3 linked regions of the Homo sapiens genome follow. The protein of the gene in region 3 interacts with the protein of the main gene of each other region in a biochemical or structural test. Each region holds a gene or a part of one and is shown on either strand. Other genes may lie near its edges. The genes, in order: TGFBR1, RYR3 and FKBP1B.

The links.
Region 1: the proteins of FKBP1B (region 3) and TGFBR1 form a complex in vitro, tested with the Homo sapiens proteins (one study listed by BioGRID).
Region 2: the proteins of FKBP1B (region 3) and RYR3 form a complex in vitro, tested with the Homo sapiens proteins (one study listed by BioGRID).

What each region holds. Positions count from the first base shown.
Region 1 is NC_000009.12:99,133,458-99,144,380, forward strand, and holds part of TGFBR1 (TGF-beta receptor type-1 isoform 1 precursor), read left to right. Parts: intron 1-4,401; coding exon 4,402-4,632; intron 4,633-9,078; coding exon 9,079-9,246; intron 9,247-10,923. UniProt on the Homo sapiens protein: Transmembrane serine/threonine kinase forming with the TGF-beta type II serine/threonine kinase receptor, TGFBR2, the non-promiscuous receptor for the TGF-beta cytokines TGFB1, TGFB2 and TGFB3.
Region 2 is NC_000015.10:33,655,330-33,666,252, reverse strand, and holds part of RYR3 (ryanodine receptor 3), read right to left. Parts: intron 6,534-10,923; coding exon 6,447-6,533; intron 6,057-6,446; coding exon 5,830-6,056; intron 4,101-5,829; coding exon 3,305-4,100; intron 2,717-3,304; coding exon 2,516-2,716; intron 1-2,515. UniProt on the Homo sapiens protein: Cytosolic calcium-activated calcium channel that mediates the release of Ca(2+) from the sarcoplasmic reticulum into the cytoplasm in muscle and thereby plays a role in triggering muscle contraction. May regulate Ca(2+) release by other calcium channels.
Region 3 is NC_000002.12:24,051,269-24,062,191, reverse strand, and holds part of FKBP1B (peptidyl-prolyl cis-trans isomerase FKBP1B), read right to left. Parts: intron 8,291-10,923; coding exon 8,243-8,290; intron 8,089-8,242; exon of another isoform or gene 8,000-8,088; intron 7,720-7,999; exon of another isoform or gene 7,576-7,719; intron 1,379-7,575; coding exon 1,266-1,378; intron 1-1,265. UniProt on the Homo sapiens protein: Has the potential to contribute to the immunosuppressive and toxic effects of FK506 and rapamycin. PPIases accelerate the folding of proteins. It catalyzes the cis-trans isomerization of proline imidic peptide bonds in oligopeptides.

The sequences.
Region 1 (10,923 bases), on a different chromosome or scaffold from region 3:
GGTTATCTTTTACTTTTTCTTGCATGTGGTTTGGAAAAATATTAAGAGAGGAACACTCCTATCCCCTGTGTTTTTAGAATTTGACACTTGGTGAAGAATAAATAGATCTAGGTTTCAAGGCAAGCTTTGTCATTGATTGGCTGTATAACCTTGGTTAGAACATGTTTCCTCTTTGGGCTTCTGTTTCCTCATCAAAAATATGGAACCCATACTGTTGATAAAAACACTTCAAGTGGTTTGTTAAGACTTTTAAATGAGATGTACTATCCTTTGAAAAGTATGAGTCATCTTCAAATAAGGGCTAAATTCATGAATAAAGTGAAAATTTGTAAAGCGTATATAATGAAAATTTCACTAATTTTGGTGAAAGCCCATCTCTATTAAAAATGCAAAAAAATTAGCCGGGCGTAGTGGCATGCGCCTGTAGTCCCAGCTACTCGGGAGGCCGAGACAGGAGAATCACCTGAACCTGGGGGGTGGAGGTTGCAGTTAGCTGAGATCGCACCACTGCACTCCAGCCTGGGAAACAGACTCCATCTAAAAAAAAAAAAAAAAAAAAATTTTCACTAATTTTATAATTGAGTGATATTAAAGGAATGTTAAAGCAGAAGTTGTGACTGGGTAAGAATATAATTCTGAAGCATAAAATCACATCTAATGTTGCAGAAAGCTCATATAATGACAAATGTCTATTTATTTTAAGGAAATGAATATATATTGGTATGTATGCATATCCATTCATTTAAGAATGAAGAAACTGATTTTATTACCTGAATTATTCTTCTATAGAATTTGGCCATATGTATTCAATAAGAGAGCTCTCTCCTTGACTACTAGGACACACACAGGCTCGCACTGGAGCTCACGTCCCAGAAGGCAAGCTTAGGGATTCCTGAAACAGTTGTGCAAGGAAGACAATGAGAGTTTGGACTTAGATGAAGCAGTCTTAGTACTGAAGGTGTGATAGTCTTTAGGCAGGCCTGGTGGACAGAGGTTATTTTAGAGCTTTCCTGGGACTTCCCATTTATTCTCAGTTCAGATCTTCAAAAAGATTTTGCTCATTCTGGAAGTCATCCTGCTCAAAACTGTGATAATCAAGGACCAGAGTCACAGAAAATCAGGATGGCTACAGATATTTGGAATTAATCCCTCAAACCTGTTCTCTTGTTTCTAAACTTATACTCCGGAAAGACACAGCACTCATGCCACTTGCCACAGTGGAATAAGCCCACCTAACTGATTAAAGGAATTGGTGGGTGGGTGGCAGTTGATTACTGGATAAGAATATCTTCATTAACCTTTTAAGATATAAACATGAGAAACAATGGAATAATTCTGTTTCCATTATATATATATATATATATATATATATATATATATATATATATATATATATTTCTAGATCCATGAGGGACCATAGCTCTCTGTTCTCTGAAAGCTTCTCTCCCTCCTTTGATGCCTTACCCTGCAAAAACTTGTCTGCATTGCTTGCTAGCTCTGTGGCTTTGGGCAGTTAACCAATGTCTCATGCTTGAGTTATTTCATCTTTAAAATGAAAGTGATGGATTCTGTGCACATCATTGGATTGTTGTGAGTTCAAGCAAGACAAAATGTTTGCATGAAAGCACTTGGTAAATTGTAGAGTTATGTCCAAATGACAAGTGTTACTCTTATTGAAAACATACTTGGAGGAAAAATCTAACATACAGTATCAGTTGACCACATTGTACAAAACTTAGTTTAAGGCCTCCTTTGCCTGTCATAGTTCATTGTGTACTGAATTCCCTCCAAACCTATCCAGGCAGAAGCCATCTTCTGGTGAATAATAGCAGAAAATGCCATCTGTTTCCCTTCTATTCATTATAAATCCTTAATGCCACCTTAGGCATGAGACTAGTGCCTGTGAATAAGTAAACTGTGTGTTTGTAATACTCTGTTTTTAGTTCTTTCATTAATTGAGGAAAAGGTATAAGCATTTCACATTCTGAATTCATATGTTTATTACTTAGTACCGTGACCATAATTAAGGAAAGGCCCTGTCTCTACCTCTAAAGACTGTGCTTTTAACTTGGGAACTTCAGGGAATACAATGAAGAGCTGGGTTCTGGCAGCTGTACGCCAAGTGTGTGAGTGTGCACATGTGCATATGTGCCAGCTTTTGTAAGTGAGTCTTCTAGGCCAGTGTTTGTTATGGCGTGTGCAGCTTATGAGCTCTTGTAATATATGCATGTTGTTCGGGTCTTATTTCCTGTTCACTGCATGTAAAGCTGTGGAGTCCCTGTTTCCCTTTTGAAGTTTTCTCTCAAACAGTTCTAAAGGTACAGAAGAGTAGAGCAGAGAATATAGAGATCTAAATTAGGCCTATTCAGTTTTGTCTTTAGAAGAAAATTGTTACTTTTTTTTTTTTTTTTTTTGGAGACGGAGTTTCACTCTGTTGCCCAGGCTGGAGTGCAGTGGTGGGATCTCAGCTCTCTGCAGCCTTCACCTCCCGGGTTCAAGCAATTCTCCTGCCTCAGCCTCCTGAGTAGCTGGGATTACAGGTGTGCACCACCATGCCCAGCTAATTTTTGTATATTTATTAGAGACCAGGTTTCACCATGTTGGCCAGGCTGATCTTGAACTCCTGATCTCTAGTGATCCAACCACGTCGGCCTCCTAAAGTGCTGGGATTAGAGGTGTGAGTCACTGTGCCTGGCCAATTGTTAACTTTTTAAAAATGCTCAACTATTCATGTGAAGTAATCCAATATAGATAATACAGTGGATCAAGATTTGCTTTTTAATTTTAATTGACATCTAGAATCCAGTGATAAAGGGGAAGACAAAACCTTTCCTCGTCCTGTTGGCCTTTCTTGACCATACCATTTACACAAGTCCTGAACCTGTCAGGTGTTTTCAGAATTTGTGTTTGTGATTCCTTTTTCTTTTTTATTACTTGTCTTTGCAATTTCCAGATTAGTCTCCTGAAATTAACTCTTAAGTGTACTTTTAAGTCTGTGGTGTGGCCCTCTACAAGGCTTTCATAAAATGTAATAAATTAGTATCTACACTAAACAACATAATTAGAATTGATTATACATAGTGCGAAAGAGCTCTATGATTTAAATAAGGATTTCTGACAGATCTGTTTCTAACTAGCAGCCTCCTTATAAACACAAACAGTTATTTATAGTTATACTGCTAACTACTTTACAGGAGGTGGGGAGGGTAGAGCAAGAGGAAGAAAGGACCCGTTTGAGAAACTTAAGAAGAAGAGCTTCTGATCGCTTTAAAGATTTAACGTTTGGATTTATAAGCATTTCACATCAGGGAACCAAAGAGAGCAGATAATTTCATTTACTGTCATTGGGTTAATTTGATCTAGTAAGCAGCTTTGAGTATAGATTATAAATGACACCAATTTATATGTACATAGATTGTATAAATAAGATATGAGTGAGGAACATGATGTACACTGGCATTTTCTTTGTTAGTGTCAATGTAATTTAAAATGACACTTACCGGATGGTGGATAGGATATTAAGTGATGGTCTCACATATAGTGCCACTTAAATGTTGCAGGTAAGTTAGTAAACCCTTTTAAATGAAGTAAGTATGGCAATACTTAAAAATACATATTTTGGAGAAAGCCAAGTTCCATTAGTGGAAAAACAGTGCTCCATTACCAAGGTAAGTTACTTAGCCTTGTTCTTCAAGATACTAGTGTTGTCTATGTAGCCAGTTGTCAGCAAGTAAATTGCTTTCCTTGAAATAGTTTCTGTGGTGATTTTTACTGACTTATCAAAAAGCCAGAATTTACTTCTGTGTTTCTGCGTTCACATCCTTTTTTCCTCCCATCAGTGAAACTGTTACGAGATTCATCTTTCTAAAATAAGATTTTAAAATTATCTTGCTTCCAGCCATGGCCCTTTTTCTCAGAAATCTTTAAAGGTTCCTCTTTTACCTAAAGCTCTTCATTGGTTATTTTGAGCTTGGTATTCAGTACTCTTCATCTTCTGGTGACAGCTTACTTTCTCTTTTCACTGCTTTGCCACATATATCCTCTCTCTGATTGCCCAAGCTGCTTCCCTAAAAATGTGTCATTCATTTCCCTCTACCTTTGCCTGCACATTCTTCCTGCCTAACCACCGTACTTAAGGGATAGTCAAAATTCAACTTACTTTTACAAAGCCTACCTTGACCCTCTAGCAGGAGTTTCTGGATTCTTTTATTATATTTATTATCTTATTTTCCTTTTTTAATTAGTTATTTTATTGCAAATATAATATCTCCCCAGTGAGATAAATTCCTAAAGGGATAGCTTAAAGTATCAGTTTTCTGGGTCACTCATTAGTGCCTATCATGATGTTTGAAACATGTAATATTGTTGATTGTGTTGAGTACTATTTATTTTTACCTTTAGGTTTACCATTGCTTGTTCAGAGAACAATTGCGAGAACTATTGTGTTACAAGAAAGCATTGGCAAAGGTCGATTTGGAGAAGTTTGGAGAGGAAAGTGGCGGGGAGAAGAAGTTGCTGTTAAGATATTCTCCTCTAGAGAAGAACGTTCGTGGTTCCGTGAGGCAGAGATTTATCAAACTGTAATGTTACGTCATGAAAACATCCTGGGATTTATAGCAGCAGACAATAAAGGTCTGTAACATTTGCTTTTCCTTATGTTATATATAACAAGATCTCTTTAAGTCTTTACAGATATGGTGACTAACCATCATCAAAGTAGATGAGACATAGATGTCTCTCATGTAGATTAGACCCATTAAGTCGAATACAATATATTAGTAACTTTTAGAACTAGGAACTTCTTCAAGATTTTCTTGACTCTTGATAGCATTCCTAAAATCTCTTAATGTTTTATAAAATATAAAAGAGCTATTTTAAAAAGCCATGTACTTTGTTGGTTTAGTTTAGGGCAGTTAGTTATTGAGAGTACTCATGATATAGAAAAGATATATAAACTTGCTCAAAATTTTGAGAATAGGGCTCAGATAGCTGTTTCCTTTTAATCTCTTCCTGACCAGTAGGATGTTTCAATATGGACTATTGACCTTATTAATGGGGAGAGTAAAAATAACTTGTCAGTGTTCTGAGTTGCCAAGGGCTAAATAGATGAATCTTCTGGCAAACTCAAAGAGATAAATTGTTTCTTCAACCACCCTGGTAACTGTACGGACACTTTTCTGCCTATCATGCTGGTGCCTGAGGCCCAGTGTCAGGTCAGATGCTGAAGAAGGAAGGAAGCCTGTCAGCAGGGAGTCAGAATGAGTGGGGACTGCAAGCAGTGACCTTAGACTGTGCTGCTGCCACTTTCTTAGCTTCCGTTAATACCTTTATGCCCATGATTCCTACTTTTTTTTTTTTTGAGATGGAATCTCGCTCTGTAGCCAGGCTGGAGTACAGTGGTGCAATCTCGGCTCACTGCAGCTTCTGCCTCCTGGGTTCAAGTGGTTCTCCTGCCTCAGCTTCTCGAGTAGCTGGGACTACAGGCGTGCACCACCATGCCCAGCTAATGTTTGTATTTTTAGTAGAGATGGGGTTTCACCATGTTGGCCAGGTTGGCCTCCATCTCTTGACCTCGTGATCCACCCACCTCACCCTCCCAAAGTGCTGGGATTACAGGCATGAGCCACTGTGCCCAGCCCCCACGATTCCTATTTTTACTGCCTCTGTCAGAGACTTGTGTTTCAGCTCCACTCTTGTCATCCCTACCCCTGAATCAAATGTATTTCCCAGCTTTCCTATTTAAAAAAAAAAAAAAATGCTGTCATTATCTCTTAGCTTGGCCAGACCTGTAGTCATCTTTTTCCTTCTCCCACCTTCCATTTACTTCAGCAATATTTATTTATTCAAATATTAACAGTGTTTAACCTCAGTTGGTAATTATGGGTGATTTTTATTATTTTTCTTTTAGCTTCTCTGGGTTTTCAAATTTATTTACAAGCATGTACTGCTTTTTTTTGTTATTGACTTTTATTTGTAGAAAATTTCCAATATGTAGAAAAGCAGAGTAGTTACAGTGATCCCTCATCGTCCAGCTTCAACAGTTGTCAGGTCACTGCCAATCATAATTGATGTCTGATCCCACCTACTCTGCCCTAACTGTGTTATTTGAAGCTGGTCCCAGACAATATGTTTTCATCTGTAAACACTTATAAAATGTAATTTGTATCTTCAAATGATGAGGAAATGTTTTTATGAAACAACCACACTACCATTGTCAGTTTTTTAAATGTTATCAAATATCCAGTTAGGTTCAATTCTATAATTGTCTCCTATTAAAAAAATTATTTATTCAAATTATGATTCTAAGTCCACAAGTTATATTTAGTTGATATTTCTCTTATGTGTCTTAAAATTTAGGTCCCCCCTTCATCTTTTTTCTCCTCTCGCAGCTTATTTGTTGAAGAAATTGGATTGTTTATCCTGAAGGGCCTATCACATTCTGGATTTTGCTGATTGCATTTCCATAGTGTCTCTTAACTTGTTCTTCTATCTTTTCTGAAAACTGGTAGTTAGATTTAGAAGCTAAACCTAATTGGAGTTTTATTGGTTTTCTCAAAATACATACTAAGGATATTATATACATCCTATTGCATCATATGTGGAGGTGTATAGTGTTTGATTAAGACGGGGCAGTGAGGTATATGATGAATGTAGGTAGCGATTATCAGTGGCACCTGACAATGTAATACCTCTTAAGTTAAAAACAAAACAGGCCGGGCACAGTGGCTCACGCCTGTAATCCCAGCACTTTGGGAAGCCAAGGTGGGTGGATCACGAGGTCAAGAGTTCAAGACCAGCCTGGCTGGCCAAGATGATGAAACCCCATCTCTACTAAAAATACAAAAAAATTAGCCAGGCATGATGGCAGGTGCCTATAATCCCAGCTACTTGGGAAGCTAAGGCAGAGAATTGCTTGAACCTGGGAGGTGGAGGTTGCAGTCAGAGCTGAGATCGCACCACTGCACTCCAGCCTGGGCGACACAGGGAGACTCTGTCTCAAAAAAAAAACAACAACAAAACAAAACAAAACAAAAAATAGTAATCAGTCTGACCAAATCCTTAGTTCTCATTTTCGTTTCTGCCTTTATCACCATTTATTTCCTCCCCCAACTCTTAAAACAACCTTTTCTTTATTTACTGTGTTTGATGACCCTAGACTTTCCTTGTTCCTTCTTACTTCTTCATAGTTGTCTTTGTTTTCTCAACTCTTACTCTTCTCACTGGTTCATATGAAGGTACTGATTTTATAAGTGGTAATTTCTTCCTTAAGAACATAGCCACATTCATGGTTTCAAACTCTACCATGTTGGCAACTCTCAAATCTCCATTTGAAAGCTTAAACCTCACCCAGGGTCTGGATTTTGTCACATTCCAAGTTACAAACACAGCAGCACAAAATGTTGGTGAGTCTGTGCCCTGAACTTCTAACCAGGCTGATGCTGTCATCTGGTGGTCACCATGGGAACTAGCTGACCCTACTGGCTCTTCCCTACTCCCCTTCTTTCTTCTTTGTCAGGGGTTAATGTACTTTCTCTGAGCCTAGCCCCTCCACCTCAGTTCCTTTATCTTCTCCTGATTTAGTTAATTCCACCCCCGGCAGCCCTTTATATTTATGGCCCCTTACATATAACCTTCCTTCTATCTTGTCCATAACCTGTGGTTTCCCTTTCTTCCATCTGCCTGTCTTCCACTTTGTTTCTTGTATTTGTGAGCTTTTCAAAATTCAGTAATGGTTAAGAGGCATGCAAATAAGCTAGTGATGTGCCTATATCAAGGAAAAGCAAGGGTGCGAGTTTGGTCAGAATCAGTTTATAAAGTTCATGAAGAACAAATTAATACTAAGTCCTTTTAAATGTACCCAGAAATCTCCTCCAGAATCTTCTGAAAAGTTTCTATTCCTTTCTTAATCTCTTCTAATCAGAGTTGGTTTTCTTCTTCAACCAAATACCTTCAAAATAGAAGCTGTTTCATGTCAATATGGATTTTTTCTTTTGGTTTACAACCAGCAGGGAAAGAAAGAGCACAGTTTATGTACTTCTTACCTAAAGAATCTAGCATTCCGTTTTTTAAATCTTAACAGTCTTACAAAGTAAGACTTTATTCTTGTATAAAAGGAGAAACAGGCTCCTTGTCAGTAACAGGCAGGCCGTGGATTCCAACCAGGTTAGAATGACTCTAAGCGTCCATCTTTTACTGGATTGTGCTGTCTCCTAATGTTGTAATGCTTTTTTTCTTCATGGCTTAATTAAGCATGTGGTTTTCCAGCTACTTCTAGGTTAAATTAGATTGTCGTGGACCAGTCTAGCTTAGGAGCCTAGCTAGTGTCTTTACCATTATTCCTATGAGAAAACATGTTTTAAACTCGTGTTTTGGCTTACAGAGGAAATTTTGGAACCCACGTTCCTCGTTGTTTGAGTTTAGTCCCAGCTTTTCCAGTTTTGCTCCTGACATTTCAGTTCCTATTTCAGCTTCCCCATGTGTTAGAGGTATCACTATTTCTGTTTTTCTAAGCTAGCAACCTTGGAATCATAATCATCTTGTCTTGCGTCTTTGTGAACTGTGTACACAATCTGTCACTAAAGCTTGTCATTTCTTGTTGAAACTCACTTTCAGTTTTGTCCCATACTCTTCCATTCCCACTGTGGCCACACTGGTCTCCGGAGACTTCTCACCTCCTTGCTTCCCTCTCTGTTCCTTCCTTTTTTTTAACCTTCTCTCCTTCCAGGAACAGCCACTGAGCACCCAACCCGACCCAGAGATTTTTCTAGGCACTTAAGAGTGCCAGCTCTGATACCAATTATCTGTGAAGACTCAAAAAAGTCACCATCTTTGTCTCTTAAATGGGATTAATTATACTTGCCTTATCTCAAGAAGAGGGGCTTACTCTGAGGAACTAAAGGATGTGTACATAAAAGTATAAAACAAACAATGTAGAAGAAAATGTGAAGGAAATACAGACTTAAGGTGGCATTATATTGCAGTGTGTGACTCAGGATTGAGAGTAAAAAGTAATAACCATTGAACAAATAAATCATAAATGGTCTGCAGCCCAACCGAAATGTTAATTCTGTTTTACAGACAATGGTACTTGGACTCAGCTCTGGTTGGTGTCAGATTATCATGAGCATGGATCCCTTTTTGATTACTTAAACAGATACACAGTTACTGTGGAAGGAATGATAAAACTTGCTCTGTCCACGGCGAGCGGTCTTGCCCATCTTCACATGGAGATTGTTGGTACCCAAGGTAATTCTATAAGCAGTTCTATTATTTAAGCTTTAAATTTTCATGAATAATGTCTATGAAAATAGAAGGTGGAGGCTGGGCCTGGTGGCTCATGCCTATAATCCCAGCACTTTGGGAGGCTGAGGTGGGCAGATCGCCCGATCTCAGGAGTTCATGGCCAGCCTGGGCAACATGACAAAACCGCATCTCTACCAACATACAAAAAATTAGTCGGGCATGGTGGCATGCACCTGTAGTCCCAGCTACTCAGGGGGCTGAGGTAGGAGGATTACCTGAGCCTGGGAGGTCGAAGCTGCAGTGAGCAGACATCATGCCACTGCACTCCCAGCTGAGTAATAGAGAGAGACCCTGTCTCAGAAAAAAAAACAAAAACAAAAACAGTAGGTGGCCTAACTGGAGATATTTAAAACAAATTTTTTAGATGAGAACATTTTATCTTTCAGTTCAAAATTTCAGGTAGAGCTAGGAATCTGGAAATTTGTTTAGAGATTCTCTAGTCGTTGTAACAAAACTGTGATTTTTTTTGAGTTCTTAAAAGTAGCATTCAATCTTATGATTTTTGAGGATCTCAGTTTCAGAATTCAGGTCCAACTGAATATATTTTTATGTGTAGTATCAAATGAAATGTGAAAGTGCTTTGTAAACATCAACATGCTAGGTAACTGTTATCTGGCCATCTAATAATTATATTTGACCTTGAGATAAGGAGACTGCATGAGATAGTTTTACAGTTGAAAAATTAAATACTAAGTTTTAGTTATGACATTTGTATGCTGTAGTTTTTGTGCATGTGGGATTTCAGATGCCAGTATATCTCTCTGCTCTAGCAGTTGTCCACTTGCAACCCAATGGCTCCCCCACTCCCCACTTTACATACAGCATAAGTGCTAGTTCACATCTTAGCTCCATCTTTGTAGTTATTATTATTATTGATTGTAACAGTTTTATTGAGTTATAATTCACATCATAAAGTTCACCCACTTAAAGTGTAAAATTCAGTGGTTTTTAGAATACTCAGAGTTGTACAGCCAGCAAACACTACAGTCAATTTTAGAATATCTTCACTCCAAAGAGAAACCCTGTAGCCACTAGCAGTCACTCCCCTTTCCTCCCAAACTCCTTAGCCCTAGGCAACAACTGCTCCTTTTTGTCTGTAGATTTGCTTATTCTGCACATTTTATATAAATGAATCATACAATATGTGGTCTTTTGTGACTGGCTTCTTTCACTTAGCATGTTTTCAAGGTTCATTTATGTTGTAGCACGTATGAGTACTTCAGTCATTTTGATGGCTAAGTAATACTTCAGTGTATGGATATGGCATATGTCATATATCCGTTCGTTGATGGACATTTGGTTTGTTTCTTTTGGCCATTGTAGCTAATGCTGCAGTGAACATTTGTGTACAAGTTGTATGTAGTTTCATGTTTTCAGTTATCTTGGGTATATACCTAGGAGTTGAATTACTGTATCATATGATAACTCTATTTAATGGTTTGAAGAACTGCCATACTATTTTCTTAAAGTGCCTGAACCATTTTACATTCCTGCCAGCAGTGTATGAAGGTTCCAGGTTTTCCACATTATAATTATTATTTTTTAATAACATTTTCTAGTGGTTAGCATCAAAGATAATATACTTAATACTGAGTACATTGCAGTTGATAGGGAAGTGAT
Region 2 (10,923 bases), on a different chromosome or scaffold from region 3:
GCAGGTGGAGCTTGAGGTCAGGAGTTCGAGACCAGCCTGCCCAATATGGGGAAACCCACCCCTCTACTAAAAATACAAAAATTAGTTGGTCATGGTGGTGCATGCCTGTAGTCCCAGCTACTTGGGAGGCTGAGGCATGAGAATCACTTGAACCCAGGAAGCAGAGGTTGCAGTAAGCTGATACCATGCCACTGCATCCCAGCCTGCATGACAGAGTGAGACTCTGTCACAAAAAAGAAACCCTAGGGGTGAAACCAAGCAATCTGTGTTTTATTAAGCCCTTTAGATGATTCTGATGCTTGCTCAAGAATCACTGGTCTAATACATTAGTGAAGAATTTCTTGAGTTACTGACTTCTGAAATGAGTCTGAAATGATTGATCAGAGGATTGCTTAGAATACTAAAGGATGGTACATACTCATCATCCCTTTGCTAGATGTAAAATGAGAAAGTCTTTTGGATTGACTGGAAAAGATTATTTGCACTGTGCCAAATGCACAGGTATGCTGTTTTGTCAGGAACTACTCTTGAAGGCTTTACAAATGTTGTCAAGCTGCTTTTAGACTGGCAGTGGATCTAAATGGTAGCCCAAGAGACAGCAGAAGGTATGGAGGCAGAATGGGGAAAGGAAGTGTGTGAGTAAACCTTGTCCTTCCCAAGATGTGGAACCATGAGCAGCTATATCCACGAGGACAGTGTTGGGTGGGCAACCCCAGTCTTGGCTGGGAGAAAGAGATGCCAGAAAACATGTGTGAACTCCACTCATCGGGTCACTGATAGAAGGTCACAGAGCCTGTCATGAAGCAATTGCAAATATCTCCAACAATAAAAGTAATAGTAGCTCGCTTAGTACTTACAGAATGCTTACTCTGTGATAGGCATCACACAAAGCAATCTAAATGGGATCCTTGCAGGAACCCTGGGAGGGAGATGCAAAAATTATCCACATTTTGCAGCTAAAGAAACAGATACAGAAAGGTCATGTGGAAGACCACACAGCGAGCAATGGGGGAGCCAGTTTGGGAACCCACAGCCCAAGGCCAACATGTGTTACCATCACCATGTCATTGTATCTTCTGTTATTCACAAATACATATGAAAGAGCCAGAATACGCCCAGTGAAATAGGGAATATGCAGATCTATTGCCAGTCTAAAAGCAGCCTGACAACATTTGTAAAGCCTTCAGGAGTAATTCTTGGAAAAATAGCACACTTGTGCATTTTGTGTGGTGCAAATGATCTGTTCCAGTCAATCCAAAGGGCTTTCTCATTTTGCAAAGGGATGATAAGCTTTACCCACTCATTAGCCAGGCTGGTATCATTCAAGAGAGTCTTTTGAAAGCCAAGATATGTCATTCATTTTTAAGCCAATATAGATATCTACGTTTTAAAATAGGTTAGGAAAGTAATTGGATGGAGTTGTAGTTCTGCCATTAACATAAAATGGTGGTAACTATATTGACAACACTTTATGGACAGGCTGCTTGTTTTATATACATGTATGTATGCTTACTCTATGACAGGCGTCATGCTAAGCAATCCAAACAAATTATCTCACGTGATCCTTGCAAGAACCCTGGGGAGGAGATGCAAAGATTACCTACATTTTGCATCTCCCTCGCAGATGTATACATACGTATATATATATATATATATATATATACACACACACACACATATATCTATATATATATGTGTATAAATATAATCCAAAGATCTGGTTTCAAAACAAAAACTACTTCCTTCGCTGAAAGATTTATCTTTTCTTTTGAACACTTAGGGAGCAGTGGTCAACCCATCTGCAAGGTCTAAGTGAGCCACTGAGCAGCGGGGAAAATGGAAACTCCTATTCTACAGAATGTGTCTCCCTCATTTAGAAATTTCTCACTAGGATCTTGACTCTTCTTAAAGAAGCCCTTCCCATCGGGGTAAGGCTAACCCCAAGGTGGGTACTGTAAAGAATGAATACAACAAATCACAAAGATGACTCACTCACTGAGTCCCCTTCTCCAGGCTCCATGGAGCTGGGGAGGCTTTGTGAGAGAGTCGTGCCACCGGCAAGGGGGTTTAGACGCATTAGAAGAAGAAGACTGTGTGCCAACTCTCATAAGTAGGGGCAGGTTGACCCTATTCTGTTGGTAACTGATAGACAGGTAGTGACTTCTGCAAGGGTTGGCAGAAATCCTTCTGAGTGGTGTATCCTTGCTGAGGAGACAATTGAATCCCAACAGTGGTCTGGTCTTTGAATCAGTAATGGAGGCATTGGAGAGGGTTAAAGAAGGGAGGAAGCCCTGCCACGTGTGCAGTTTAGAAAGGGGTATTTTCCTACCCAAGAGAATTGGCACATATTCCTTAGCTTTCAGGACTAGGCCTGTCTCCTGGTATTGCAGTGGGTCTTTTCATCTTCCATAGCTCTTGAGGCTGCCCCAGAGACCATAGAGGTTTCATGTGCCCTGTTCCATAGGTCTCAAGTTCTTCCATAGGAACTGGACAGAGGCTCAGGAAGGACCCTCACCTGCTCCTGTGGGGGTGAGCGGAACTCCTTGGTCTTCCGGGCAGTCAGGGCCGCAGACATGTTCAGGGCCTGCATGAGCTCATTGTAGCGGAACTTCTGATTTGCCTGCAGCTTGGAGACATAAATGTCACCAAATGCCACAATGGCCTCCACTCGGTGCTGCAGCTCACAGTCGCAGAGATAGCTGAGGAGCTCACACATCTGCAATGAAAGTATTATATAGATAACACTTTGTGTACTTTGGTGAGGCTGCTAGCATGCCCATTTTACAGACAGTAGCACTGAGACTTAGACAAAGTAAATTGCCACACAGTAGCCATAAAGCTGTTACTCAAATCTTCACCATTAAGTCGAAGGCAATAACAGAAAACAGCTCACTAAAGACAGAAGAAATCTGCCTATGGAGAGAGAGAAAATATTTCTAAGAAAATAGTTTCCCAGGAAGCTGAGTAGAAAAACCAGCTCCAGATCATGCACGTGAATGCTGCCTCCCTTTCTGAAATGTTCCAGTCCTGGAGGATGGAAAGTAGAGATGTTTGTCCTTCTCTCCATCTTTCATTGTTTTTTGCACTGTTTTTCTGGGATGAGTTGTTTTGGATTGTTATTACCAATCTTATCACTTTTAGAACTTATTCAACAACAAGCACCATAATCATCAAGCACTCTTGGTCAGTCACTATGCCAAGCACTTGACATACCTTACCTCCTTTAATCCTCAGTGTGTTCCTGATATTTTGATCAAAGCAGAAGATCTATTAACCTGCCTCCACTTAACCACCTGCAGCTTACCTGCAGCTTGACGGATTCGGGTAATCGAGTCTGCAACAAGCCTTTGACAGGAGCCTCCTTGCCGGCCTTCTCCCCAGCCTCCACAGCCTTCTCCTCCACCTGGGTCACTTCCTCCTTTTCTGCTCCCTCCTCTGTCCCCGCACTATGCTCCCCAAACACAGAGGGATCAATCAGGAGGAGGATCTGCCGAACATCATCATCATCAAACACGCCCATGACCAGCAGGGTTCCAATGAGTTTCAGCACAGGCACAAACTGGAACTCCACAGACCCCCCTACAGGGTCTCGGATGTGGGCCCCGCTGCACTGCACTGCCTCTGTCAGCATACTCAGAGCCTTCGTCCTGAGACTCTCCAAGGGAATCTCGGGGCTCTGCTTTTGGTGATCCTCACCAGTCACAACAAAGCAAGGGGTGGAGAACCTGAACCCGGGCTTGAGACATGTTCTCAGGCCCACCCCAGGCAGTCCATGCCTCTTGGACTCGTCCGGGAAGAGGCGGATATTCCTGGTGGTGCTGGTAATGGGGATGATGTACTCGTTCTTCATCATCAGCTTCCTCTCCTTGGCGCTGGCCAGGTGGATGCTGATGAGCAGGTCATAGAAACCAGATCGAAGGAGGCCGGGGAGGTACTTGTTGTCAATGGCATAGAAGAGCTGGGAGAGGTCCACGTGGCTGCACAGGGCGTAGGCCACGCGGCTGTTTCCCAGGGCGCACACCGCGCTGTAGAGCCTCAGCGTGTGGTAATGGAACCGCATCAGGTCCTCCTGCTCACAGAGCTCCAGGATATCCACACACCTGAGGACAGGACGAGCAATCAGCCACACCAGGGGGAGAAGAACCCACCAGAATCCAGCTATTTCATCCAGCCCAACAAAGGCAGGGTGGGTGGAAGGTTGGAGGGGTCTCTGCCACAGTTTCTCTTATGGCTTATCATGCCTCTCTCAGCTCTGGTCCGTATTCCAGTTCCTAGTACTCCACTGTATTTAACTACAAGGCTCTCAAAAGCCTGCAAGACACTGGTTTACCAAATATGAAAGTCTTCATTATTAGGAAAAAATCCGAAATTCCCAAACAGAAAACATTCACATATATGAGAGTGATGACTTGGTCGTCTTACTTGTAGGATCAAGCAGATGTTTCATTTCCCTCAGAAATGTAAAATCTCCTCAGAAAATGTAGATTATGCTTTCTGTCAGTCTACCGTCTACATCAGGGGTTCCCAATCCCGGGGCCATGGACCAGGACCAGCAATAGATTTTCATAGGAGTGTAAACCCTACTGTGAACCGTGCATGCGAGGGATCTAGGCTGCATGCTCCTTATAAGAATCTAACGCCTGATGATCTGAGGTGCAACAGTTTCATCCTGAAACCATCCCCTCTACCCCCTCCCCCAGCCTCACCCACCACTGTCTGTGGAAAAACTGTCTTCCATGAAACCAGTCCCTGGTGCCAAAAAGGCTGGGGACCACTGATCTGTATCATTTGTATAAAGTCCAATCTACCACTATCCATGGGGTGTTCCTCCAACGACCTGAAAACAAACATACTTGTTTTGTTTTCACAAACATACTCTGCACTCTTGTCCAGAGAGGAAACACCTTCCAACCTGAAACCAATTAACATTATCCAGTTGGCTCTCTCTTTCTTGACTTAGAGGTCTGTTTGTATGTTGCTCCCTTGTTTGTGTGGGTCCAGGGCCTCGGCTCTAATCTCTGCTTAGATTTTTCATTTAGTCTCACGACTCCTCATGGATTTGAGGACCCTGCAGAATTGACTTACTTGGCTGGGCTCCTGGTCTTTTCTGCCCCTTTCCTGCCATGGCCTGCCCTGCTGCTCGTGACCCAATGGGACACCTAAATGGGACCTATGCAGGTGTCAAATACCTCAACCCTTTCCCATTGCTCTGCTTTTTTATTCAAAGAGGTCAAGGGATGGCAATAACCGTAACATTTATTTCTTACTATGTACAGAAACTGTACCAGATTATACTTATACAATCTCATTATTTTCCTCCCAGAAACCCTTTGGGTGAGCATTTCTCTCACTGTGTAGATGAAAAGAGCAATGTTCAGAGTACATAAGTAATGTACCCAAGGCCACAAAGCCAGAAAGAGAGAGCAATGGGATTGAACCCCAGCCATAATTAATAGCACCTCTTAGCAAGGGGAGACCAGGAACCTGATTCCTGATTCTCTAAGTCAAGCTAGAGTCTTCCCCTTCCTGTCATAAATGATGCATATTTCAAGGTAAACTAGTTTTTAATTTAAGGCATGGCACTGTTCCTTAATACCAGGCACTAGGAGCTGCAACAAAGGCCCTGTGGCAGGCACCTCCTAGTGTGTTTCCTGCTGTTTCTGAGTAATGAAAGTGGGAAGGAATAGAAACTGAGGCACTGGGGAAATCAAGTCATACTGGGACTGAGCAGGATCCAACACAGATGCTCCTGGTTTCCTTCTGGGCTGGCTTGGCTCTGCCTCACCTGCCCCTCAGGCCTGCCCCTTCCTTCGCGGGCCCCTCTGGTACCTGTTCTCCTCGGGGATGTGGAGCGCCATCATCTGCAGGGGCTCCAGGCACTGCACCACCCAGCCGTGGCGCTCGCTCACACGCTCGGTCTCCACCTTCAGGAAGCTGTTGGGCATGCGGCTCCAGAGCACGGGCTGGATGGTTTGGACGTCCAGCCGAGGTGGACACTGTGGGACTGGGTTCTTCTCTTCACTCCTGAATATGGCCGCTGACAGGGGCATTGCGTTCTGGGGCACGTGGGAAAGGCATTGGAAAAGAAACACACAGTTGCTGGATGACGCACCCAGACATTTTAACCGATATGGCCAGTATAAATTAAAGAGGGACAAATGTATCCAGGGATCTCTAAGGGCTTTACCAGCATTAATTAGCATTTCAAATAATGGGTTATATGAGCATTAATTGATTCTTTCAGCACCCAAAAGAGGTGGGAAAAGGGGAAGATAAGAATGCATATTCTACCATCTGAATGCCACAGGAAAGGGCAGGGCCTGGGGGTGGGGGGCTTATGGGAAGTGAACAGGCTTCTCCCATCTTCTGAGGCCTGGGATTTTCCCCCTAATGGTTAGTGCTGCTTTCTCTTGTCATGGCCATTAGATGAGAGGACAAATAAATACCTTCAGCTTTCCAAGTTCAAACTGAAACAAAGAAGTACTTGTAGGCTGCAGGAAGACTGCTGGAAACACTTTGGTATTAGGCTCCACCTGGAAATCAAAACAAATCGAAAGCTTTGCCCAGAGCTGGACAAACAACACAGCTGGCTCAGCCATTGGGTGTTTTGGTCAACAATCTCATTCCAATGACTGCTAGCTGTCTGGTCATTCTCCACTGCTCAGAAATTCGCAGAGACCAGTTATCTATCAGCGGAGATTGTCACAATTCCACACCTTAAACAGTGTCTCCACTCAGGGCTGAATAATCTCAGGTCCTTTCATTTTTTCTCTCAGATACCTGTAGCCAGTAGCTTCCTCCAGTGCACAGGACAGGTAGGTGTGAAGCTAACTCCCCACCAAAGGCATACCTGCTGCTGGTCACTGAACAGTGTGATGTGCTTGCTCTTCACAGAGCCCAAAGACACGTGGCACATGGCAGCACCATCATTCTCCACACCTGCCCATAGGAGATGATAACTGGGATAGGGTGGTGACTCAGGCAAACCAACATTAGTCAAGCAAGCCCATGGAGATCCCATGGTAGGGTTTCTCAACCTTGGCACTGCCGACATTTCAGGCCAGGTAGCTTTTTGCGGTGGGCGCCATCCCATGCACTGTAGGATGTTGAGCGGCATCCCTGCCCTCTGCCCACTGCACATCAGCAGCACTCTCTGCCCCCACCACAGTCATGACAACCAACATGGTTCCCAACATTGCCAAATGTTCTGTGAAGGGCAAAAGTACCCCTGATTGAGAAACACTGCTCTACAGGCAAAGACTGTGAGGTCCCTCACTGGAATAACAAAAGGACACTGTCTCCCTCTCAAAGCCCTAATTCTCCCCGGGTTCCTCTGGACTCCTCTCCATCCTCTCCACCCCCTTTGCACTCTTCAGCATTCCAGTTCTTCTGTTGAAGGGTTTGGCATTTACTGATTGTGCTGCAGCTGCCACTTAGATGAAACATTAGATTTATCAGTGTACCACATCAGGAGCTCCAGGTATTACTTGCTCCCTTTGATGGAGGAGCAGCCTCTGAATTCCATATTACTAAAGTGTTTTCAAGAAAGTCACTGGAGGATGATGGAAGACTACATAAAGTCTGCTCACACACTGGGACTTTAATTCCACCAACTGAAACCTTTTAGGTTGAAGCAAATATAAACATTAGGAAATTCTTGCAACTCTCCCCATCTATAAATGAGGGGATGGCAGGTGTGCTGGACATACCCTAAGGTGACCCCAATGGGTCATCATTCCCCTAGAACTTGTGTCTTGCTTTCAGCAAACAGAATGACAAAGATGAAGGACCTGTCACTTCCTAGATTATTTTATGTAAAACTTCATCTTGGTGGACTGGAGAGAAAGCTTCTCCAGATGACCTTGGAGATGTGAGCAGCTATACTGTTAGAAGGCTTACGAGAGGGCCACGGAACAAGGAATTCTTGGGGGCGGAAGGCGGGGAGAGTGGCCCCTGGCTGCAGCCAGCATGAAAACAGGACCTCAGTTCTACAAATGCAAGCAATTGAATTCTGCCAACAAGCACGTAAGCATGGAAGAAGATACTGAGCTCTAGAAAAGAAGGCAGCCTGGCTGACACCTTAACAATATCCTTGTGAGACCCTGGACTGAGGACCCAGCTACACTGTGGCCAGACTCCTGATCCATAGAAATCATGGGCTAATAAATATATGCTATTTTAAGCCGCTAAATTTGTAATTTGTAATGTGACAACAGAGAATGAGTATAGTGAGTTTTCTTTTTGTCAAAGCAATTGTCACAGGTTTTCTTTAAATAATGAACTTCCTCAATGTATTTAGACATAAGAGTTACAAAACCACACATTTTTATGGCTGTGACTTAGAAGATTGCATGATTTAGTGCTATCATTTGTTCATGATGAAATAGGCTGGATTGGTTAAACCCCAGACTTTCATCCAGTACATGATCCTTCTAGTACACAAAAGTGGCCTCACATTTCAGGTAAAAATATTTGATTTATACTGGATGTTCCATGGACGATATGAAGAGATAAGTGCCAGTAAAACCAAAATGTTGGAGTAGACTGCTAGTACTGCCTGCCTCTGCCTGAAATAAGCTTTGTAAATGACTTTCAACAGATAATGATGTAGTACCTATTATATACTTGCTTTGTGCCAGACCCTGAGTTCATGGTGATGAGACATGAATAGGAAATTCTGATTTGATGTTGTTCTGACTTTAGCTACAAGGCAGGAGTCGTCCCTGGGCTGGCTCCCAGATTTCTCAAATGCCCAATATGTGACATCTAGAACAACTTGTAGGCCTCAAGTCACTGCAAACTGAAGGGAGCAGAGCTCCTGTGGCTGAGGAAACTTCATCTGGACCAGTAGGAAGCCCATGCGTTTCTGCTAACAGGGAGAGAGAAATGCATTCAGTCGAATCACACCAGTATAGGGAGCCATAGCTTGAAGAGGGAGTTTTATTTTCAGGTCCCTCAGGACTGGTTCCTGAAAACTTCATAAACTGCCCAAACTCCAGGGCTCTCCTCAACCCTCCCTGCAGAAAGTAAGTGCTTTGAGAGCATTTAGGATGCCCTGGGATAGGTTTATTTTCCACCACGCAGAGTATAGTCTCACATGATAAACAAAGGAAATGTCTCTTCGATCACTAAAACAAGAAAAAAACACAAGTGTGGGCTCATGAGGGTGTAATAAGGATAAAAATGGGCAATTGGTGGTGTGGTAAGCAGGATTCGAGAAGGCCCTCTGGGACCCCTGGTGTTACTCTTATGATCATGCTATGTTGCACGGCAAAAGGCATTCTGCAGATGTAATGCAATTGTACTAACCATTTGGCCTCAAGATAGGGAGACCTTGTTGGCCTTTTCAAATTGCATGAGGCTTCTAAAGGCAGGAGTTTTCCTGCTGGAGGAAGAAGGGAAAATCAGAGAGAAAAACTGGACGTGCCCTTGTTGGCTTTGAAATGGAGGGGGCCACGTGTAAAGGAATGTGGGTGCCCTCTGGGAGCTGAGAGTGGCCCTGGCTGATAGCCAGCAAGGAAACAGGGGCCTCAGAATCTACGACCTAAGACCCATAATCTCAAAGAACTGCCAATACCTTGAATAAGCTCAGAAGTGGATTCACCTTAGAGCCTCCAGATGAGCCTGGTTCAGGCCCAGGGCACACTTTGTGTTTGGCCTTGTGAGAATCTGAGTACCCAGTCAAGCCTGCGGAACTCTGAAATAATGTGTGTTGTTTTAAGCTGCTAAATTTTGTGGTAACTTGTCAGGCAACAATAAAAAAAAAATGCCTACAAGGGGATTTCCCAGCCGTGGGTCAGTCTGGCAACACATACTCGGTGAGCATTCACTAGATGCCAGGTACTGTTTCATGCATGGGGAGGCGGCAGTGAGCACAGGAGAGGGCCTCTGCCCTCAAGGAGCTTACCTTCTAAATGAGGAACTTACATGCCCATGGATTGCGCAACCAGCCCAGATTTAGCACTGCCGTGGTATGCCACTGACAGTTTCCCTTTTGTATTTGAGGCACCTTTCATCACTGGCTGATCTGTTTTGTCCTTGCAATAATGGACATTCTTTTTCTAATCATGTGTGAAGGTCATGGCACAGGAATGGGCCTGAATTGAAAGCTAACCCCTCTTGTAAATCCAAACCTCATAGCTGCCTGTGTCTCAGACTGGTGTGCCTGGAGTGGCAATCACTGAGGAGTATCTCTTGAATGTAGATTTTATTTCTCAAATTCGCCACTGATTATATTAAGTGGACAGAAAAATGTGTTCAAATTGTTTATCACTATTTAATGGGGAGGTCTAGAAACATTGTTTGAGAGACTCCTTCTCTCATTATTTTGGTTTCTAGTCCTTTCTGAATCTGAAAGCCAGTGTATAAATATTGCTGGACTGTTCTTCTTGACATAATTGAAAAATGAAAATGGCTACAGCTGTGGAATAACAACGATCCCACTGTCAGGGACCAAATGCATGGCAGGACACGTTACTGTCTCGCCTGGAATGAGAAGGGGGCTGGCTGGGTGTGAACCTCTCAGGTTTCTGGACAGAGTCCTGATACTGTCTCCTTTGCGGCAGCATTCTTAAGGGCAAGAGTCAGGACTGGGATCGCTGAGCAGGGTCATCAGGATTTCTATGCACAGGGTGGAGGAAGGCTCTCCAGGAGGTAGGGTACCAGCACCCAGCCAAAAGAAGACAACTGACCAGCCTATGTCACCCAGAAGGATGGTGAAAGGTGGGCTAAAGCTGTCACAGTGTCCTCCTCTTCAACATCACAGGTTCTTTCCTGAAGCAGGCAAGTCACTGCTGCTGCAAATGCCATTTTAAAAAATTAATTATTTTTTTTGAACTTCCAAAGATCAGCTAGTCTTAAAAGTTATGAGATGCTTTAGCGTCCTCTGCAGCTCAGGGAGGACCCTTCAGTTAAACTCATTTC
Region 3 (10,923 bases):
CAAAATAAATAAATAAATAAAAAACAAAAAACAGGCCGGGCACGGTGGCTCGCACCACTTTGGGAGGCTGAGGCGGGCAGATCACGAGGTCAGGAGACCGAGACCATCTTGGCTAACAACGGTGAAACCCCGTCTCTACTAAAAATACAAAAAAATTAGCCGGCCGTGGTGGCGGGCGCCTGTAGTCCCAGCTACTAGGGAGGCTGAGGCAGAAGAATGGCGTGAACCCAGGACGCGGAGCTTGCAGTGAGCCAAGATTGCGCCACTGCAGTCCAGCCTTGGTGACAGAGTGATACTCTTTCTAAAAAAAAACACCAAAAACAAGACCTATCGTAAGGGAGCATCATAGGACTTCACAGACAGACCAAGAAAGAACAGCTTGAACCAGGGCTCATCACAGCAGTTGTTGAGAACCCACTCAGCATTAGTGGGACAATTGGTGAAATTTAAATCTACTTTTGAATTTTGAATAATCAAAAATTTGAATAAGTAAGTAATTTGTATCAGTGTGAATGTCCTGGTTTTGATAATTGTACTATGGTTATGCAAGAAGGGGAAGCTGGATAGAATATAGAAGAACTCTGTACTATTTCTTTAATATTTTTGTAATTCTGAAATTCTTTTCAAAAAAGCGAAAAAACGAAAAATTTTCTTGGCCTACTCCACCCCAACTCTTCCACTACCTCAGTCCCAGGCAACTGGTAGACCTCAGCTAGTTTATTTTTTTGTTTTGTTTTTTTGAGACAGTCTCACTCCATCGCCTGGGCTGGAGTACAGTGGCACAATCTCTGCTCACTGCAACCTTCACCTCCCCGGTTCAAGTAATTCTCCTGTCGCAGCCTCCCAAGTAGCTGGGATTACAGGCATGCACCACCACGCCTGTATTTTCAGCAGGGACGGGGTTACACCATGTTGGTGAGGCTAGTCTTGAACTCCTGGCCTCAACTGATCCACCCCATTCGGCCTCCCAAAGTGCTGGGATTACAGGTGTGAGCCACCGTGCCTGGCTCTCTCAGCTAGTTCTGAGCAAGCCTAGGGGGATGTGCTTGGGATGAGAGCCCCCAGGGACACAAAAGAGGTATGCTGGCAAGGAGAGGGGTGGGGACGCAAAGCCAGGAGGGGACACCAGATGGCGTTGCCATGCCCTGGCTGTAGAGTCAAAGCAGTAGTGGTCTGTGAGTGGGTGAAGGTGGAGGTGGAGGGCAGAGTGCTGATCCCAGATCCCCAACTCCCCAGATCCCCTTTAATGCGAATCCTCATCCTACCTGGGCTGCACCCTCTTCAAAACCTTTGATGACTTCCTGTTTGCCAATTCTGAACTTGAAAGGTTTGTTTCTGTCTCTGGATGAATCAAACTTCTTCCCATTTTGGAGCATTCCTGTCAAAGCAAGAATCGGGTGCAATAGAGCTGTGGTCATGAGTAAACTCCCAATTCAGATTCCACATGTCTAAAATGGAATGCCTTTTCTGCACACACCTGCTCCTCTTCCGATCCTCCCCATCCATCCTGTTGCCCAAGCAGGAAATCTGGACACTTCCTTCTGCCTCACCCCCACATACTGCCTATCACTAAGTCCTCCATATCTTTGGAATCCACCTATTTTCTTCATTTCTATTTTTATTTATTTATTTATTTATTTGAGACAGAATCTCAATTTGTCACCCAGGCTGGAGTGCAGTGGCACAATCTCGGCTCACTGCAACCTCCATCTCCTGGGTTCAATCGATTCTTCTGCCTCAGCCTCCCAGGTAGCTGGCATTACAGGCGCCCACCACCACACTCAGCTGATTTTTGTATTTTTAGTAGAAACAGGGTTTTGCCATATTGGCTAGGCTGGTCTTGAACTCCTGAACTGCAGGTGATCCACCCACCTTGGCCTCCCAAAGTGCTGGGATTACAAGCATGAGCCACTGTGCCTGGCCTTTTCTTTGTTTCTATTACCACGACCAAGTCACCAGCTTATCTCACCTGTACACAGGAACAACCTCCTAACTGGTCTTTTTGATCCTCTTTTACTCGCCTCCATTTCATTGTCCACTTGGCATCCAGACTGATTTTTTTTTTTCTTTAAACACAAATCTGATTCTATTACTCCCCTGCTCAAAATACTTCAATAGCTCCCCAGAGCAGAATCCAAATGCCTACCTTGCATACAGGCACTTCACAATCCGGCTCTGGCCTGCTTATAACCCTCTCTGTTCTCCCCTTCCTTCCCTTCCCTCTGTGTCCTTTTCAGGTCATACCTTTCTCAAATTCCTCTGCACTTTTCAACTTTTTTTTTTTTTTTTTTTTTTTTGAGTCGGAGTCTCCCTCTGTTGCCCAGGCTGGAGTGCAGTGGTGTGATCTCGGTTCACTGCAACCTCCGCCTCCCGGGTTCAAGGGATTCTCCTGCCTCAGCTTCCTGAGTAGCTGGGACTACAGGTACCTGCCACTATGCCTGCTAATTTTTTTATATTTTTAGTAGAGATGGGGTTTTGCTATGTTGGCCAGGCTGGTCTCGAACTCCTGACCTCAGGTGATCTGCCCACCTCAGCCTCCCAAAGTGCTGGGATTACAGGTGTGAGCTATCATGCCCAGCCAGACTTTTCAACTTTTTTATGCCACTTCCTCCACCTAAAGTTCTGTTTTCCCAGCTATTCCAGCCTCAGGTTGAGTCCTCGCATAAGGTTCCTAAGGTTTCCTAAGTTTCCCCCAAAAGGGAAAACCCAAAGGTTACATTATCCCCTACTGTAGGGAACAGTGTAAGGTGACCTAGCTGGTCAGAGGTGGCCTCCAGACTCTGTACTAAGAGGGCTGTTTGAAACCAGAACCCCCCCCCAGGTGCTGGTCCAGCAGTTCTGGTTCCCCCAGCCTCTGCTTCAGAAGCCTTGTCATCCTGATGTCCACATGTCATCTCAGTCCAGCAGCCCAAGGCCCAACAGCTATTCTCAATTCTTCTGTGACTCTGACTCAAAGATCAGACCTTCTGTAAATGATGCAGTTCCACGACTGCTCCCGGCAGTCCCTGGACCACCACAAAAGGCCATTTGGGACTAGAAAAAGACCTTGCTTGTACATCCAGAGACTGGGTTTTGACTTCACTCTGGCTCTAACTCATTGTGTGAGACTGGGCAAATCACTTCCTCTCCCAGGGCCTCAGATGTGTCATATTTAACATAGGAAGCAGGGCCAGCTTAGTGTAGGAGCATCTATGATGCTACTTCCTAATTCCTACAACTAAAATATATATTAGAGAAACAGTCTTATTTAACTACTTTCTGAGTAGAATACATTAAGCTTTTGCCCTGGGTACTAACTGAGGCAAAGAAGAAAACCCTTCTGGCTACACAGAGGTACATGCAGATGGATGCTAACAAGATCAAATACAATCGCATGCATTTGCTAAGGTTGCTAAGATATTCAAATACACAAAGATACTTGTGCATGCTCACATGCACTTATGCACTCACACTCAGGAGAAAAGCCCTGGTGGCCAAATAGATGCTAAGAAAATATTTACATACACAGATCTACATACATTCACACAGATACATACTTGTACAAATATGCACACAGATATGCAAACACACATGCACACATTCACACACTCCATTTATATACCGACTTTCCTTTCTCATTCCTTAGTTTCTTCAGGTTTCATGTGACTTAATCTACTTTGGATAAATAACTTCATTTATCTATTGCTACAAGTTAAGCCAAAACCATGCAGTCTAGAAACAGACCCACTTACATGGTGATTTGATTGGACAAAGATACCACTGCAATGCAGCAAATAAAGGTTTTTTTTTCTTGCATTAAGGTTGTTGAGTCAACAGTATATTCATATGGGGAAAAAATGAACTTTAACCCCTACCAAATCCACACACAAAAAAATCAATTCCAGATGAATCATAAACCTAAATATGAAAGATAGAATAATAAAGCTTCTACAAGATAACAAATAGAAGGATATCTTCATGACCTAGAGACAATTTTTTTTTTTTTTTTCCTGAGACAGAGTCTCATCTCTGTCACCCAGGCTGGAGTGCAGCGGCTCAATCTCAGCTCACTGCAACCTCCGCCTCCTGGGTTGTTCAAGTAATTCTCCTGTCTCAGCCTCCCGAGTAGCTGGGATTACAGGCATGCACCACCATGCCTGGCTAATTTTTGTATTTTTAGTAGAGACAGGGTTTCACCATGTTGGCAAGGCTGGTCTCGAACTCCTGACCTCAGGTGATCCACCTGCCTTGGCCTCCCAAAGTGCTGGGATTATAGGCAGGAGCCACCGCACCTGGCCTGACAGACAAAGATTTCTTAAACTGAACACAGAAAGCACTAACCATAAAGGGAAAGATTGATAAGTCAGACTTCATCAAAATTAGGAACTTCTGTTCAGGCCAGGTACAGTGGCTCACACCTGTAATACTAGCACTTTGGGAGGCCAAGGTAGGAGGATCACTTGAGCCCAGGAGTTTGAGACCATCCTGGGCAACATAGGGAGACCTTCCTCTCTACAGAAAAACTAAAAATTAGCCAGGTGGCCGGGCCCGGTGGCTCACGCCTGTAATCCCAGCACTTTGGGAGGCCGAGGCGAGCAGATCACCTGAGGTAGGGAGTTCGAGACCAGCCTGACCAACATGGAGAAACCCAGTCTCTACTAAAAATACAAAATTGTCCAGGCGTGGTGGCGCATGCCTGAAATCCCAGCTACTCGGAAGACTGAGGCAGGAGAATTGCTTGAACCTGGGAGGCAGAGGTTGTGGTGAGCTGAAATCGTGCCATTGCACTCCAGCCTGGGCAACGATAGCAAAACTCCATCACACACACACAAAAAAAAACCAAAAAAAAATTAGCCAGGCATGGTAGCATGTTCCTGTACTCCCAGCTACTTGGGAGGCTGACATGGGAGGAGTCCTTGAACCCAGGAGGTCAAGGCTGCAGTGAGCCATGATCCCTGAAGACTAGAGCCACTGAACTCCAGCCTGGGTAACAGAGTGAGATCCTATCTCAAAAATAAAAAAGAAAGAAAAAAATTTTAAAAAGAAAGAAAAGAAGAAAATATAAACTATAAAAAAAGAACTTCTGTTCAAAATATACTATTAAGAGAGTAAAAAGGCAAGCCATAGTGTGGGAGAAGATGTTTGGGATAGATATAACCAACAAAAGACTCATATCCAAAACATATACAAAACTCCTATAAATCAACAAGAAAAAGACAACCGGCCGGGCACCATGGCTTACACCTGTAATCCCAGTACTCTGGGAGGCCGAGGCAGGTGGATCACCTGAGGTCAGGAGTTTGAGACCAGCCTGGCCAACATGGCGAAACCCTGTCTCTACTAAAAACCTCAAAATTAGCCGGGCACGGTGGCACACACCTGTAATCCCAGCTACTCAGGAGGCTGAGGCAGGAGAATCACTTGAACCCGGGAAGTGTAGGTTGCAGGGAGTGAAGATTGCGCCATTGCACTCCAGCCTGAGCAACAAGAGTGAAACTCTGTCTCAAAAAAAGAAAAAGAAAAAGACAACCTAATTTTCTAAAATGGACAAAATTAGAGCAGTCTAAAGAGGATATCCAAATGGCCAGTAGGCACATGAAAAGGTGCTCAACTTCATTCATCATCAGGGAAACACAAATCAAAACCACAGTGACCAGCCTGGCCAACATGGTGAAATCCCATCTCTACAAAAAATACAAAAATTAGCTGGGTGTGGTGGTGCGCACCTGTAATCCCAGCTACTTGGGAGGTTGAGGCACAAGAATCGCTTGAACCCAGGAGGCGGGGTTGCAGTGAGCCAAGATCGCACCACTGCACTCCAGCCTTGGCAACAGAGTGAGACCTTGTCTCAAAAAAAAAAAACAAAAAAACCCACAATGAAATGGTACTGAACGCTCACCAGAGTAGGCCAAAACCAAAACAAAGCCTGGTGTGGTGGCTCATTCCTGTAATCCCAGCACTTTGAGAGGCCGAGGCAGGCAGATCACCTGAGGTCAGGAGTTTGAGATCAGCCTGGCCAATATGGTGAAACACCGTCTCTACTAGAAACACAAAAATTAGCCAGGCATGGTGGCGGGCGCCTGTAATCCCAGCTACTCGGGAGGCTAAGGCAGGAGAATCGCTTGAACCCAGGAGGCAGAGGTTGCAGTGAGCCAAGATCATGCCATTTCTCTCCAGCCTGGGCAACATAGACTCTGTCTCAAAAAAAGAAAAAACAAAACAAAACCAAAACCTGACAATAACAAGTGTTGGGGAGGACACAGGGTAACTGGCAGTCTCCTACACAGCTGCCTAGAGTGGAAACTGGCACAACGACTTTGGAAAGCTGTCAGACAGTACTGCTAACGCTGAGCCCAGGAGGTACCCCACTTCCAGGTATATACCCAACAGAAACATGCACATATGTCTGTACACATGTACACTAAGAGATGCCTGCAAGACTGATCAAAGTGACACTGTTTGTAATAAACAAAAACTATGAACAACCCAAATGTTCATCAACGGTAGAGAGGATACATAAATTGCAACATACTTGTACGTTAAAATACTGTAGAGGAATAAACCATTCTGGATATATCTCGCAGACATAATAGTGAGTGAAATAAGCCAAACACAAAAGAGTACCTACGCTGTGGTTCCATTAAGATGAAGTTCAAAAATAGGCAAAACCAATCCATGGAGACAAAAGTCAGAGTAATAGTTGCCAGCCAGGCACAGTGGCTCACACCTGTAATCCCAGCACTAGGAGGCCAAGGTGGAAGGATCACTTGCATACAGGCGTTCGAGACCAGCCCGGGCAACATAGTGAGACCCTCATCTCTACAAAAAATTAAAATTAGCCAGGCATGGTGGCTCATGTCTGTGGTCCCAGCTAGTCAGGACACTGAAGCAGGAGGGTCACTTGAGCCCGAGAGGTCGAGGCTGCAATGAGCTGTGATCACCACTGCACTCAGCCTGAGTCACAGAGTGAGACCCTGTCTCAAAACAACAACAACAATGACAAAAAAAAAAAAAAAAAGAAAAACAATGATAGCTACCTCTAGGGAGGTGAAATGACTGGGAGAAGGCATCAGGGGGACTTTTGGGGATGCTGGTTCTATGCTTGTATGTTCTATGCTTCTCTAGGTGGTAGTCACATAAATGTGATCACTTTGAAAAAATTCATTGACCTAGACATCTTACATTATGTTCTCTACTATATTTATATTTAACTTTAAAGTTTACCAAAAGTCCCATAGTCTCCCGCTATGTTTGATAAGACATAGTCTCTCCCAAGACAGGAGCTGCTGCCCTATGTATGTATTGTGAAAGGACTTTGCAAAAGGATGTTGTGGTTTCAGTAACTTGATAAATACTGGTCTGTCTACAACATGCAAAATTGTTAAATCAATTACACAGGTCAGAGGCCCCAGACGACCCATGGTAATTAGGCCACATCACCAGGAGATAAAACATGGTCCAGCCCACTGACATCAGCGACCAGCAACACAACTGCTGAAAACATCCACACCATCTGCCTAGAATTAACCTTGTGCTTCACACTGGCCCACAGAACTGCTAAAAATGGCCCCATCCGAGTATGTCCTAGGAATTAACCTGGGCTTGCTGTCTGCTAAGTGGCTGTCATCGAGTTTGCCACTTTAGGAAGCAGGTCACAAGGCAGGGTGCTCACCTCCCTTGGAACAAACACCTGCTCATGATCTTCCTGCCAGCAGTCCTGAAGAACTCACTCTACCTCGCCTGCAGATAAAGAGCATCCAACTGGGATCAGTCCCGCTCTGGGCTCCCTCAGTACCCAGAGAAAAGCACTGCCATCACCCCACCCCTCAAATGGCATCGGAGCCTCTGGGTGACTTGTCTGTCCTCTCCCCTCCTCTTCTTCTCTAATGATACTGCAGGATGGAGAGAAAGTCTGCGGGGAGCTCTAGGAGGGATTTCCAAATATCAGACAGACCCAGCAGGGACAGGGGCTCCACCATACCTGCAACAGAAGGAAGGGGACTGAAGGTGTTTGACTCACCTAGAAGCTGGCACCATGGATGGCCCTTGCTGGTAGAAGAGGGAAAGAGTTGGCCTTCCAAGCCTCCTTTATCATTCCCACTAGACTGGCTGGGAGGAGTAGAGGATGGCTGGTCACAGGGAGACCCTGCTGCCTTGGGCTTTAGCCCTGATCCAGAGGCAGGCACCTCTGGAGAGAAGCTCAGAGGACAGCCCTGCCTTGGGAGGGGAAGGACTGGGTGGGGGCTGAGGGGGTGAGACTTACCTGTGTAGTGCACCACACACGTTTGGCCCTTCTTGGGGAATGTCCTTCCTGCAGGGAGACATGAGGGCAGATGAAGGAGTAGGATATTGGAAAAACACCTGGGACATTAAGTATGATCCTGACCAAGAGCTCCAGCCTGCATTCCCCTCCATGCCATGGAGATGCCTGTGGCCCTAGTTCTGGCTCTGGGCCCTGTACGAGCCAGAATGAATCACGTCACCTCTCTGGCCTGGATTTACTTTACCCCCTCAATTTTCTCAATTCTGCTGTCTCCTGGGCTTTCCCACCACCCCACCCCCACTTTCTTTGATTGCCCCTTTTACTTCACATCATCCATTCCACAGACATTTACAGTTGGCCTCCTATGTGCCAGGCCTGGACCAGACTTCAGACATGCAGAGCAATGTATGAACTCATGAGGAAGGTAGGGAAACAGACACACAAATACCAGATTACAATGCAGATTATAATCCATCCATCAAAGATGAATAAACACAATAATTTACAAATATTTGCTGAGAGGCCAGGCATGGTGGCTCACATCTGTAATCTCAGCACTTTGGGAGGCTGAGGTGGGAGGATCACTTGAGCTCAGGAGTTCTAGATCACCCTGGGTAACATAGGGAGACCCCATCTCTAAAAAAAAAAAAAAAAAAAAAAAATCTTTTCAATTAGCTGGGTGTGGTGCCGCATACCTATAGTCCCAGCTACTGAAGAAGCTGAAGTGGAAGGATTGTTTGAGCCCAGGAGGTCAAGGCTGCAGTGAGCTGTGTTCATGCTACTGCACTCTACCCTGGGTGACAGAGCAAGACCCTGTCACAATAAACAAACAGACAAAACAAAACAAAACAAAACCACAAATATTTACTGAGTACCTATGGTGTGCCAAGCCTGTGCCTGATCACAGGGATACAGCAGTGAACACTACAAACAAGATCTCTATCCCTGTTCTTTTAGAGTTTACTTTTTTTTTTTAAGAGTAGGGGTCTCAGTGTGTCACCCAGGCTGGAGTGCAACAGCATGATCTCGGCTCTGTGCAGCCTTGACCTTTCCTGGGCTCAAGCAATCTTTCTTCCTCTGCCTTCTGAGTAGCTAGTACTGCAAGTGCATGCTGCCATGCCCAGCTAATTTTTTTAAAAAAAATTTGTAGAGACAGGGTCTTAACATGTTGTCCAGGTTGGCCTTGAACTCCTGAGCTCAAGAGATTCTCCCACCTCAACCTCCCAAAGTGCTGAGATTATAGGCATGAGCCACCAAACCCGCCCTGGAGTTTATATTCTAATGGACAGAGACAATACTTAAATATACAAAATGATTATGGATTATGATGAATACTCTAAAGAAAATACACACAATGATGTATTAAAGGGAGATGCAGTGGGACAGGCCATTTCAGACAGAGTGGTCCAGGATGGCCTCTTGGAGAAGGTGCCCCCTGGAGCTGGGACTTGAAGGATGAGCAAAATACTGGGAAATAGCACTTGGGAAAGGAGTAACAAGTGCACAGAATCAACACATTTGCAGTGAGCAAGGAGGCTAGGTGCTGGAAAGAAGGGAGGGAGGAGAGAGGTGGGAAGGACATGGATCATGCAGGGCTTGAAGAGCCGGATTTAATACTAAGTGCAATAGGAAACCACTGGAGGGTTTTAAGCCAGAGAATGACATAATCTGAATTAAGATTTTATAACATCACTCTGGCTGCTATGTGTAGGATGGACGGTTAGGCGTCTGTTGCAATAATCCAGACAAGAAATCAATGATAGCTTGATTTAAGGTGGTGGCAGCAGAGAAGAGAGTGAAAGATTGGAGACATATTTTCGAAGCGGAGCTGACAGGTCATGCAATCAGACTGGAAATGGGGTCCAGGATGAGGACAAAGGAGACAACAAGAACGATGCTTGGGTTTTCTGTTTGGGCAACTGGATGAATAGTGCAACTATTTCCTGAGATAGGGAAGACGGGAGGAACAGATTTGTGCGGGTGGCAATCTTGAGATGCCTATTAGACATCTGAGTTTATATTGCAAGTAGGCAGATGAAGAGTCTGCACTGGAGGTATAAATTTGGCTGGAATTTAAAGCTACGGGGCTGGATACAAAGCCTAAGGAAGCCTAACCACAGAGCCGATATTTAGAGGACTCTATGGGATCCTGGAGGAGGGAGCAGCTAACTGACCACAGAAGTCAAGGAAAACATCATAGAGGAGAGAATGGTGAAGCCAGGTCTTGAAAGACAAGTAAGAGTTTGCCAGAGGAAGTGAAAAAACACCATCTGGGAAGAGGGAACAACATGTAACATGTTCAAAGGCCCTCAGTCCAGCAATAGCGGGAACCCTGTCTGTTTCAACTGTGTCACCTTAGGGCCTAGCACACACGTTCAATAAATATTTGCTGAACGAGTGGTGTGTTTGACAACTTGCAGGCAGCTTGGGAAAGCTGGAGGAAAAAGTTAGTGGTGGGCTTAGGACAGGTGGTGAGAGATGAAGCTCTAGTGTGGAAGATGAGAATAGACCATAGCACCAAAGGCCCCTCCTGGGGGAGAGGGAAGAATCATTAAAACATCTTCTGCCTGAGGGAGGGGCATAGTCAAACATGCATTTTTTTTCTTTTTTTTTTTTGAGATAGAGTCTTGCTCTGTCACCCAGGCTGGAGTGCAATGGCACAATCTCAGCTCACTGCAACC